2 separate regions of the Homo sapiens genome follow, and region 1 is linked to region 2. Evidence: fine-mapped expression QTL. Tissue or cell type: lung. Region 2 holds a variant in brackets; the other region holds the start of a gene. All regions are shown on one strand. Distances are between the middles of the regions. Region 1 holds the start of FREM1 (FRAS1 related extracellular matrix 1). Region 2 overlaps FREM1 (FRAS1 related extracellular matrix 1).

Region 1 (4,395 bases), 26 kb before region 2:
TAATCTATCTATAAACTTTATAATCTATCTATAAACTAATCTATAAACCTTATTAGTTTCTAGACTAATCTATAAACCTTATTTAGATGTTAGAATAAGCATGTTGATGCAACCGTTTGTACATAGTATACAATTCCTTTGTCAAATGGAATCCGAGTCTCAACTAACAGCTTCTAAAACCATCTTCATTTCTTTGCAGGTAAGATATTCACAACCTGGGCAATTTTGAAAATCAGTTGGGGAATAAAATTGTCTATTATGCTGTGTTTCTTAACTGTCATTATTAAGGCTTTATTTCTTGCCTTTTCAGGATTAATATATGACTCACACATTGTCACTATATTTATTTAATAATAACTGTGTTTAGTAAATAATATCTGTTCACTTATAAAGAGCTTAGTGATTCTTAACTTTCACCTACTTATTCTCAGAGCAAATAAAATGAATCAAGAAATTCTTGAAGATTTGAAATCTCCGATGACTTTGAGTAAGTGTATATGCACCATTCATTGCTAAAGTAACCACAAAGCATGTTTTTAAAATACATAATTTTTTTCTCCCTTCTTATGCATTCTTTTCTTCTTTACATTTTTCTCTTTTCTTTCTTCCTTCCTCATGTAATTTTCTTCTCCTTTTTCATTTTCCTCTCTCTTTTCCTTATGGCTTCCAAAGAAAGGCATATGGTGTTGTGACCTTGTTACGGGAAACCACATCTAGGTTGAATTGGATTCACAGTGTTCTATATTTTTGGCAAAGGTTTAGGATAGCCAGACATGTCTTAATATAAACAGTTCCCCCAAAGTGAGTTAATACTTCAAATTCTCTCTTTATGGTTAATTTAGAAGGCCAGATGGTAGGCCATTATCTTTTTTTTTCCTGGTGGGAATAAAATACAGGAAAGCATTTTATTAAACAGTTGTTAAGGATTAAGACTTTCACAGACCACTGAATACTGACAAGTTAACTATGTGAATCTCTGTTGAGAGGACAGTTCTTGGCCAGTGATATATCTGCATTATTGGGATCACGCACTATATGCAAATGGATCAGATTAATGGGATTTTTATGGGTTTTCGAAAAGAGCCAGACACACAAAAAGCCTTACAAATGGAAGAACTAAGGTGGTACTTAAAAACAGCACCTTAGGATCTAGTTCCATCCTATCTTTTCCCTTAAATGCCATGACAAAAGTTAAAACGGGCCCTGTCCCTTCTGAATGCTGGGCTTCTCATCTAAATTTAAATAAAAACCTTTGAAGATGGGAATGTGTTGGAAGAAAAGAAGGGCAGAAAAAAAGTGTGTTGGAAGAGTCTGTGTGAGTATGTACATGTGTGGGTGTGGGCATGTGCGGCCTGTGCGTATGTGTGTGCCCCCGTGTGTGTGTGGAGCATGCGTGAGAATGCATGCACATGTGTGGGGTGGGTCACTATGTGTGCATGCATGTGAAGGCATTTGCCTGTGTATGTGTCTGTGTGTGGTGATTGTGTGTCTATCGTGTTTGTATGTGTGCCTGTGTGTGTACCTCTGTGAGTGGGTGTGTCTGTATGTGACTGTGTGCCCATTTGTGAATGTGTGTGTGCCTGTGTCTGAGTGTGTGTGTGCCTGTGTGCTGCAGGCGGGAGAGGCTGCTCTGGCTCGGCGAGTGGCGGAGCAGTTAGTACAAAACTAGTAGTGAGAAAGGAAGCTGGGAAGAGACTGGGAAGAGGCAACCGACCTCATTAACAAAAGCTCAGTTTTGTCCCTGCGGACCCAACCAGCAGAAGGCACGGGGCTAGCGGTGGCTGTCCGCCAGGGAGGTCGGGCTCTGTGTAAACAGTAGAAGGCATCTTTATCATGCCCTTCTCACAGGGAGTCCTGAGGCTTGGCGCTCAGGAAGTTTGCAAAGCTGCAGCAGCTGCCTTGGAGAAGACCAGCAAAGAAAGTGGAGTGTGTATGTGAACTTCAATTCTGTATTTTCTGTGAGGTGGGTTAATGGATTTTTAGTAAAAAGAAATCTCAAACACAGCTGACCTGAAAGACTGGAATTTCAGCTCTCTTCCTTCCCGGGGTTCTTTTTCCTCCCCCTTCCTCTCAAAGCCCTTTAAACCAGATTGCTGTGTCAGTGACTCTTATCCTGCCCGCCAGTTCCAAGGGTTTCTAACTTTTTGTCTTGGAAAGGAAAACCACTACCTGTAAGTATCTGTTTTATGTGTTTCTTTTCATTGTGACTGTGAATGTTCTGTTAGCAGAATGCCCCAGAGATTGTTTGTGTGATATCATTAATGCCAAGTAACAATGCAAAGCATCTGCAAGAGTAGGCTTGCAAAAGTTTAACTCTCCTGTTAACTCAGAAGATGGCAACTTGCAGTGTTAACAAACCAAATGCCAAAACTGAGATTCTTTTTATTACGTGACACAAATTTCTAACTCTTCTCAGTCCATCCGTGCTGGCACTTGCCAATGAAATAACCATTTTTTAACTGTGTAATTGTTTCCTCTGAAATTAGAATGTTTCTTCTCAGCTAAATGAAATGGCAAAGGGAAAAGACACAAAAATGAACAGAACAGATAATATCCTCATGGTACAAACATAGAGAAATTTGGATGAGATAATGTCTGGATACCTTTGCTTAAGTTTAGTTATATTTGGAGACATATTTTCAAAAACATGATTTCTGTTTCATTGTGGGGAAGAGAGATAGTGCTGGGGAGGCAAAGAAATGGCCTTGTTCTGAAGTTTTTGGACTGATTTTTAGGCTCTCTCTGCTCAGTACTGAGATTTGGTCCAGAGACTTTGGTGCTGTTGTAAAGAGTTTCTTTTCATTTTATTTTGAAATCCAGGAAACAATTTTTGGCTTATGGAAATTGTTTATTGTTTTTAAGGTATTTAATTTTAGTTTCTGATTTTTTTTTAAACTATTGCACCCAGTCTTGTTGCTTGGTGTGCATTACAAAGCTTAAAAAGAGCATTTCTGGGAGCCAATTGGTGTTTATAGCCTGGGAATCTTACTGGAGAGATTAACCTCTGTGGTGCTGCTTCACAGAACAGAGCTAGTGATTCGAATGCTCTTCAGGTTTCTGCTCTGGAAAACTGACACCCGCTGTTCCTGACTCTAGGTAAAGCTTGAAGAGCTGTGCCTCAGCCCCCTGCTTACATTTGATAAAGGTGCCTTCAGTGCAGCTCTAGGAAACTTTGCTGTTTCTCTCCATCAGGCATTCTCAAAACTGACTGTGTGTAAGAACCCCCATTTGCTTGGTGAAAGGCAGGTTCTCAGTTCCCAGGCCCAAAGGATTTTAGACCTGGAGTGGTGCCAGGAATCTTCCCAGGTGATTCTGAAGCAGGTGGGTCACACTTGGGTAAACATTGCTCTACATTGTCCTTGACATGAAATTCTTGTCATGTACTTGGTTAATATTAAACCTTATATCTAAATAAGAAACCTGAGTTTGAGCTGTTGTTGAGCATAACTTAATGTGCAACATGGTTTTGCATGCTTGGCTGGCAAACCAGGGCTTTTTAATCAGTTTTCCACCAACCTCATCTTTTTTTTTTCTTGCTTCCCTTTTCATCTCTGCCTTTTCATTCCCACGAGGGAAAAAAGGAGTTGGGCAAAGGGACCTGACTACCATGTTCCCTGCTTTCACATGTTGGGCTATATGGCCTGATCTGCCCCCGCATGGCTAAGCAATGTTTGTTTTGGAAACTTTAAACCCAGGACTGTTCTTAATTCTTTCCCAGCCTCCTGGGGCTGCTGGGCTGTAGGGGTTGGGCGAGGCTGAGTTTGGGTAAACTGAGCTTGATTTCATGGAATGGTTCAGGAGCCTCATTCCTAGAAAATGATTTTTGGATTGGACCATCCCACAGGGATGAGAAGAAACAGAAAATGATTCTTCCATGGTGTTAAAATTCTCATTTCACAATATGTGAAAGTCAGAGCTCAGCTTCCATCCCCATCCTTGCATTTTCTGGCGTTTAATATTTATATTAAAAAGAAAACTGGACATGGCCATCAGAGCCCCTTGCTTTCTTTTCTTTCCTCATTCCAAACATTTAGGTGCACCTGCTACATGCCAGGCTCTGTGATAGTTTTTAAGGATTTCAGAATGCCCACTGGGGATGGCATGCACAGGCAGGGTCCTTGTCCTCATGGTGTTTCAAATCTTAGTTGTTGCTAACCAGCCTTGGAAGAGCCATCTAACCCCTCAAAGCTTCACTTCCTCATCAGTAAAATAAGTTGAATTAAATGAGTTTTGGTATCTTCCTAGCTCTGATATTCTGACATTGATGGATATGACTCAGTCTTCTAAACACAGATATGGGCTATGAGAGCTTTTCAGCATTTACTCTGAGAATAGGCCTAAAGATTTCGCTAATTGCTTTTCTTCAAAAATTTTCAGATGTATTTTTTTCTCTCA
Region 2 (4,395 bases):
CAGGGTTCAAGCGATTCTCCTGCCTCAGCCTCCCGAGTAGCTGGGATTTACAGGCGTGTGCCATCATGCCCAATTCATTTTTGTATTTTTAGTAGAGACAGGGTTTCACCATGTTGGCCAGAATGGTCTCAATCTCTTGACCTCGTGATCCGCCCACCTTGGTCTCCCAAAGTGCTGGGATTACAGGCGTGAGCCACCGCACACAGCAGTTTATTTCTTAAATGACTTTAGGGTACTTGTAAGACCTAAAGTTGTGAAAAAGTTGTTCTCATAGAAGTAGAGAGTAGAAGGTGGTTACCAGGGGCTGGGGAGGAGGGAGGACTGGGGAGGTGCTGATCAAAGGATACAAAATTTCAGTTAGTCCAAAGGAAGGAGATGTATTGTACAACATGACTACTATAGTTAACAGCATTGTATTGTATAGTTGAAAATTGCTAAGAGAGTAGATTTTAAATGTTCTCCTCATAAAAAGAAGATATGTAAGGTAATAGATATGTTAGTTATTTGATTTAGCTATTTCACATTGTATATGTATATCAAAACATCATGACACAACAGTGTATGTATATATTGCAAAACAGCTAAATTAAGTCATTAACCTGGTGGCTCACACCTGTAATCCCAGAACTTTGGGAGGCTAAGATGGAAGAATAGCTTGAGACCAGGAGTTCAAGACCAGCCTGGGCAACATTGTGAGACTCCCATCCCTATGAAAATTAAAAAACAATTAGCCAGATGTGGTGGTGCATGCCTGTAGTCCCAGGTACCTGGGAGGCTGGAGCTGAGGCTTGCTTGAGCCCAGGAATTGGAGGCTGCAGTCAGCTATCATCGCACCACTGCATGCTAGCCTGGGCGACAGGGTGAAACCCCTGTCTCTAAAACAAACAAAAATCATGTTGTACATCATAAATATACACAATTTTATTTTTCAATTAAAAATAAGTAAAAACGAACAATAAATAATTGTGTGAGTCAAGGGGTAATAACTGCAAGCCTGGGGAAGACAAAAATGTTCCATTGCTTATGTCATCTTTAGTCAAATGGTGATAACTACCTAGATCACTAATGAGAAGAGTTTTGGGCCACATATGAATTCTGCAAAAAGCAAAGAAAATAAAAAGCAATGATGGGGAGGCCGAGGCGGGTGGATCACGAGCTCAGGAGATCGAGACCATTCTGGCTAACACGGTGAAACCCCATCTCTAGTAAAAATACAAAAAATTAGCCGGGCGCGGTGGCGGGCAGCTGTAGTCCCAGCCACTCGGGGGGCTGAGGCAGGAGAATGGCGTGAACCCGGGAGGCGGAGCTTGCAGTGAGCCGAGATCGCACCACTGCACTCCAGCCTGGGCGACAGAGCGAGACTCCGTCTCAAAAAAAAAAAAAAAAAAAAAAAAAAAGCTATGATGAATTATTGATATCTTGATAACTATGCTGGGCATAGGAGGGGGAAGGCACTTGCCTTGTGTTGGGTAGCTACCATTGCAAAATTCCAGAGAGGAAGAATAGTAAATATTATTTTCATCAAGGCACGTCATTACCATTGACCGTTAAGAATTTCCATTGCATTGAGAGCTGTACAGCTGAGATCCATTTTTTTTCTTGTTGTGCACAGATTATCTCAAATTAGTGACAGGAGTATCATGTTTATATCAACATGAAGAATACATGCTCATATAGTTAAGCTGAATGTGTAATTATGAAATAAATACTAGCTCACATTTCCCCTCCACCAATTATGTTACTAAATTATTTTCTTCTGTTCAAAAAATTTCCCAAAAAGTTTGGTTGAAGAAATCTTTATGAATTTTCATAAGAATTCAAAACAGCGTGTTTTTTCACATTTCAGAAAGAATTTTCACACAGCTTTATTGGCGTTTATTGGCTTATACAGATATACTGTACTTAGAATACATGATTACCATGTAAAGAAAAAAGGCAATGGTGGGAAAATGGTCAGGGAGAGCAGAACTGATTTGCAGTCATGTCAGGAGGATTTCGAAATGTTAAGAAACAGCTGAGCCACACAAGCAAGCCAAGACAGGATTTGTTTCTTGTTTTTTTTCTTTTTTTCTTTTT[T/C]CTTTTTTGAGATGGAGTCTCGCTCTGTCGCCCAGGCTGGAGTGCAGTGGCGCGATCTTGGCTCACTGCAACCTCCGCCTCCCAAGTTCAAGAGATTCTCCTGCCTCAGCCTCCCAAGTAGCTGGGAATATGGGCACCCACCACCACGCCCGGCTGATTTTTGTATTTTTAGTAGAGGCAGGGTTTCGCCGTGTTAGTCAGGCTGGGCTCGAACTCCTGACCTCAGGTGATCCGCCTGCCTGGGCCTCCCAAAGCGCCAGGATTTGTTTCAAGGATTTGAATCAAGTCCGAGGTGGCTAAAAGTCAGTTTACAAGCTCCCTTGGGGAATATGGCCAGGTGCCCTTTCTACTTCCACTTCTAGCTGCCCCCAATAATTCTGCCGACCCTGAGGGTGCCCATACTAGCAATCAGAGCAAGCTGTGGACAGATGGATTCTGAGGCTCTGACTTAGCCCTATGCTGGGACTAAGAAAATAAAATTCTCAAGATGTGCTAGGCTTCCCATTAGAGTGTTGTTTTTCATGTAGAAGTTGGCTGTCACTGGACATAGTAATTTTGTGTCAGAGACAAGACAGTTATTACCGTCTCATTTTGAGGTGTTAAAAGACCCATCATCACTGTGAAATCTTGTTTGCTTCAGAATTTTGCTTTGCTTTGCTGTTGTTCTGTTTTTCTTCTGGCCCTTTCTCGGTCTGCTCGTCTGAATTCTTTTCTCTTTCCCCTCCCATGCCACCTTCTTGAAGCCAAAAATAAGAGCAGTATTTTCCATGGAATGTCCACATACTTGGTGTTTCCCAACACCAAGAGAAAAATACAAGAGCAAAATTAGAATGCAAATAAAACCAAACAAAGCATACCCTTTTTGATCTTTATTGCTTCTAATTCTGCAGCCTTCAGTCTAGGCTCAGTTGATTGAAGGATGAGTTTTGTTTGATTTTGAATTTGGAAATTGTTACTCTTGTACTTTTCCCCCCTCCTAACTGTGTTGCTTCAGGTTGTTTTTGAAATATCAAAATTTAGTTTTTTAATATGTATTCTGTTGTAAGACTATGAGAAAGAAAAAATTAGAATGTAAATAAAACAGACTCTATTTGACATTTATTGAACCTAATTTTGCCACCTTGCCACCTTCATCCAGGCCCAATTCCTTCTACTCTGTTTTTCCTGAGAAAGCTTTACTTTCTTGTCTCTTTGATATATTTTGTAATAATAATGTTAACATTTGTATGGGGGTTTGTAATTAAGAAAATATTTCCACATAGATTATTGGTCTGACAGGGGAACTTTGGAGGCAAGATGGGTGATTCCTTTTTTTTTTTTTTTTGAGATGGAGTCTCGCTCTGCTGCCCTGGCTGGAGTGCAGTGGCATGATCTCAGCTCATTGCAACCTCTGCCTCCCAGGTTCAGGCGATTCTCCTGCTTCAGCCTCCCATTTTTGAAAGAGGAAAGTATGTTCATAAAAATCAGGATTAGAATCCATGGCCAGGTGCAGTGGTTCACACCTGTAATCCCAGCACTTTGGGAGCTGAGGCGGGCAGATCACTTGAGGTCAGGAGTTTGAGACCAGCCTGGCCAACATGGTGAAACCCCATCTCTACTAAAAATAATACAAAAATTAGCCAGGCGTAGTGGCGGGCACCTGTAATCCCAGCTGCTAGGGAGGCTGAGGCAGGAGAATTGCTTGAACCCAGGAGGTTGCAGTAAGCCAAGGCTGTGCTACTGCACTGCAGCCTGGGTGACAGAACAAGAATCCATCTCAAAAAAAAAAAAAAGATAAGAAGAAAATTAAAAAAATAATAATCGGGATTAGAATCCAGATATTCAAAATTCAAGTCTATTCTTTCAACAGCATTGTGGTGCAGGGAGCCATAAGAATAGATATCTCCTCTCTTCTCTTGTCTCTTCCTGGCAGATAAACATTAGGATCTTGGACTTTGACCTTATCTCTCAGTTAAGGGTTTACTATGATATAATTAGAGAATGAACTATTGTCCCATATGCTGTTAGGTAGGAAGTTAAATCTTTAGCTGATTAGTGACTAAACAAAATTAATACAAAAACTTGAAGAAGAAGTGATTATTAAAGGTATAGTTAAGTTCAGTCATGAGTCACACACACACACACAAAATAATAACAGTGAGTTAAATAGGAAAGAAGTTTACATTCTCTCCTGTGTAAAATTCTGGATGAATGGACTGGTATGGTGGTTCTGCTTTGCAAATGGCCCAGAGACCCAGGGTCCTTCTAGCTCACAGCTCCACCAACCTATGCCATAGCCTCATTTTTTCATGTGCAAGGCAGCACCTTCCATCTTGGCAA

The links.
Region 1: FREM1 starts here. The variant in region 2 is fine-mapped to the expression of FREM1 in lung (TOPMed, PIP 0.93).

Annotation. Positions count from the first base shown.
Region 1 is chr9:14,907,690-14,912,084 of GRCh38, reverse strand. It overlaps FREM1 (FRAS1 related extracellular matrix 1), which reads left to right and starts at 1,657. Exons shown (of 37, transcript NM_001379081.2): 1 at 1,657-2,171. RefSeq lists enhancers at 2,892-3,393, 4,343-4,395.
Region 2 is chr9:14,881,918-14,886,312 of GRCh38, reverse strand. The region is part of intron 1 of FREM1 (FRAS1 related extracellular matrix 1); the gene reads left to right. Among named protein-coding and RNA genes, the nearest start is that of FREM1, 26 kb to the left of the region's middle. The variant T/C (reference allele first, on the strand shown) is at 2,077.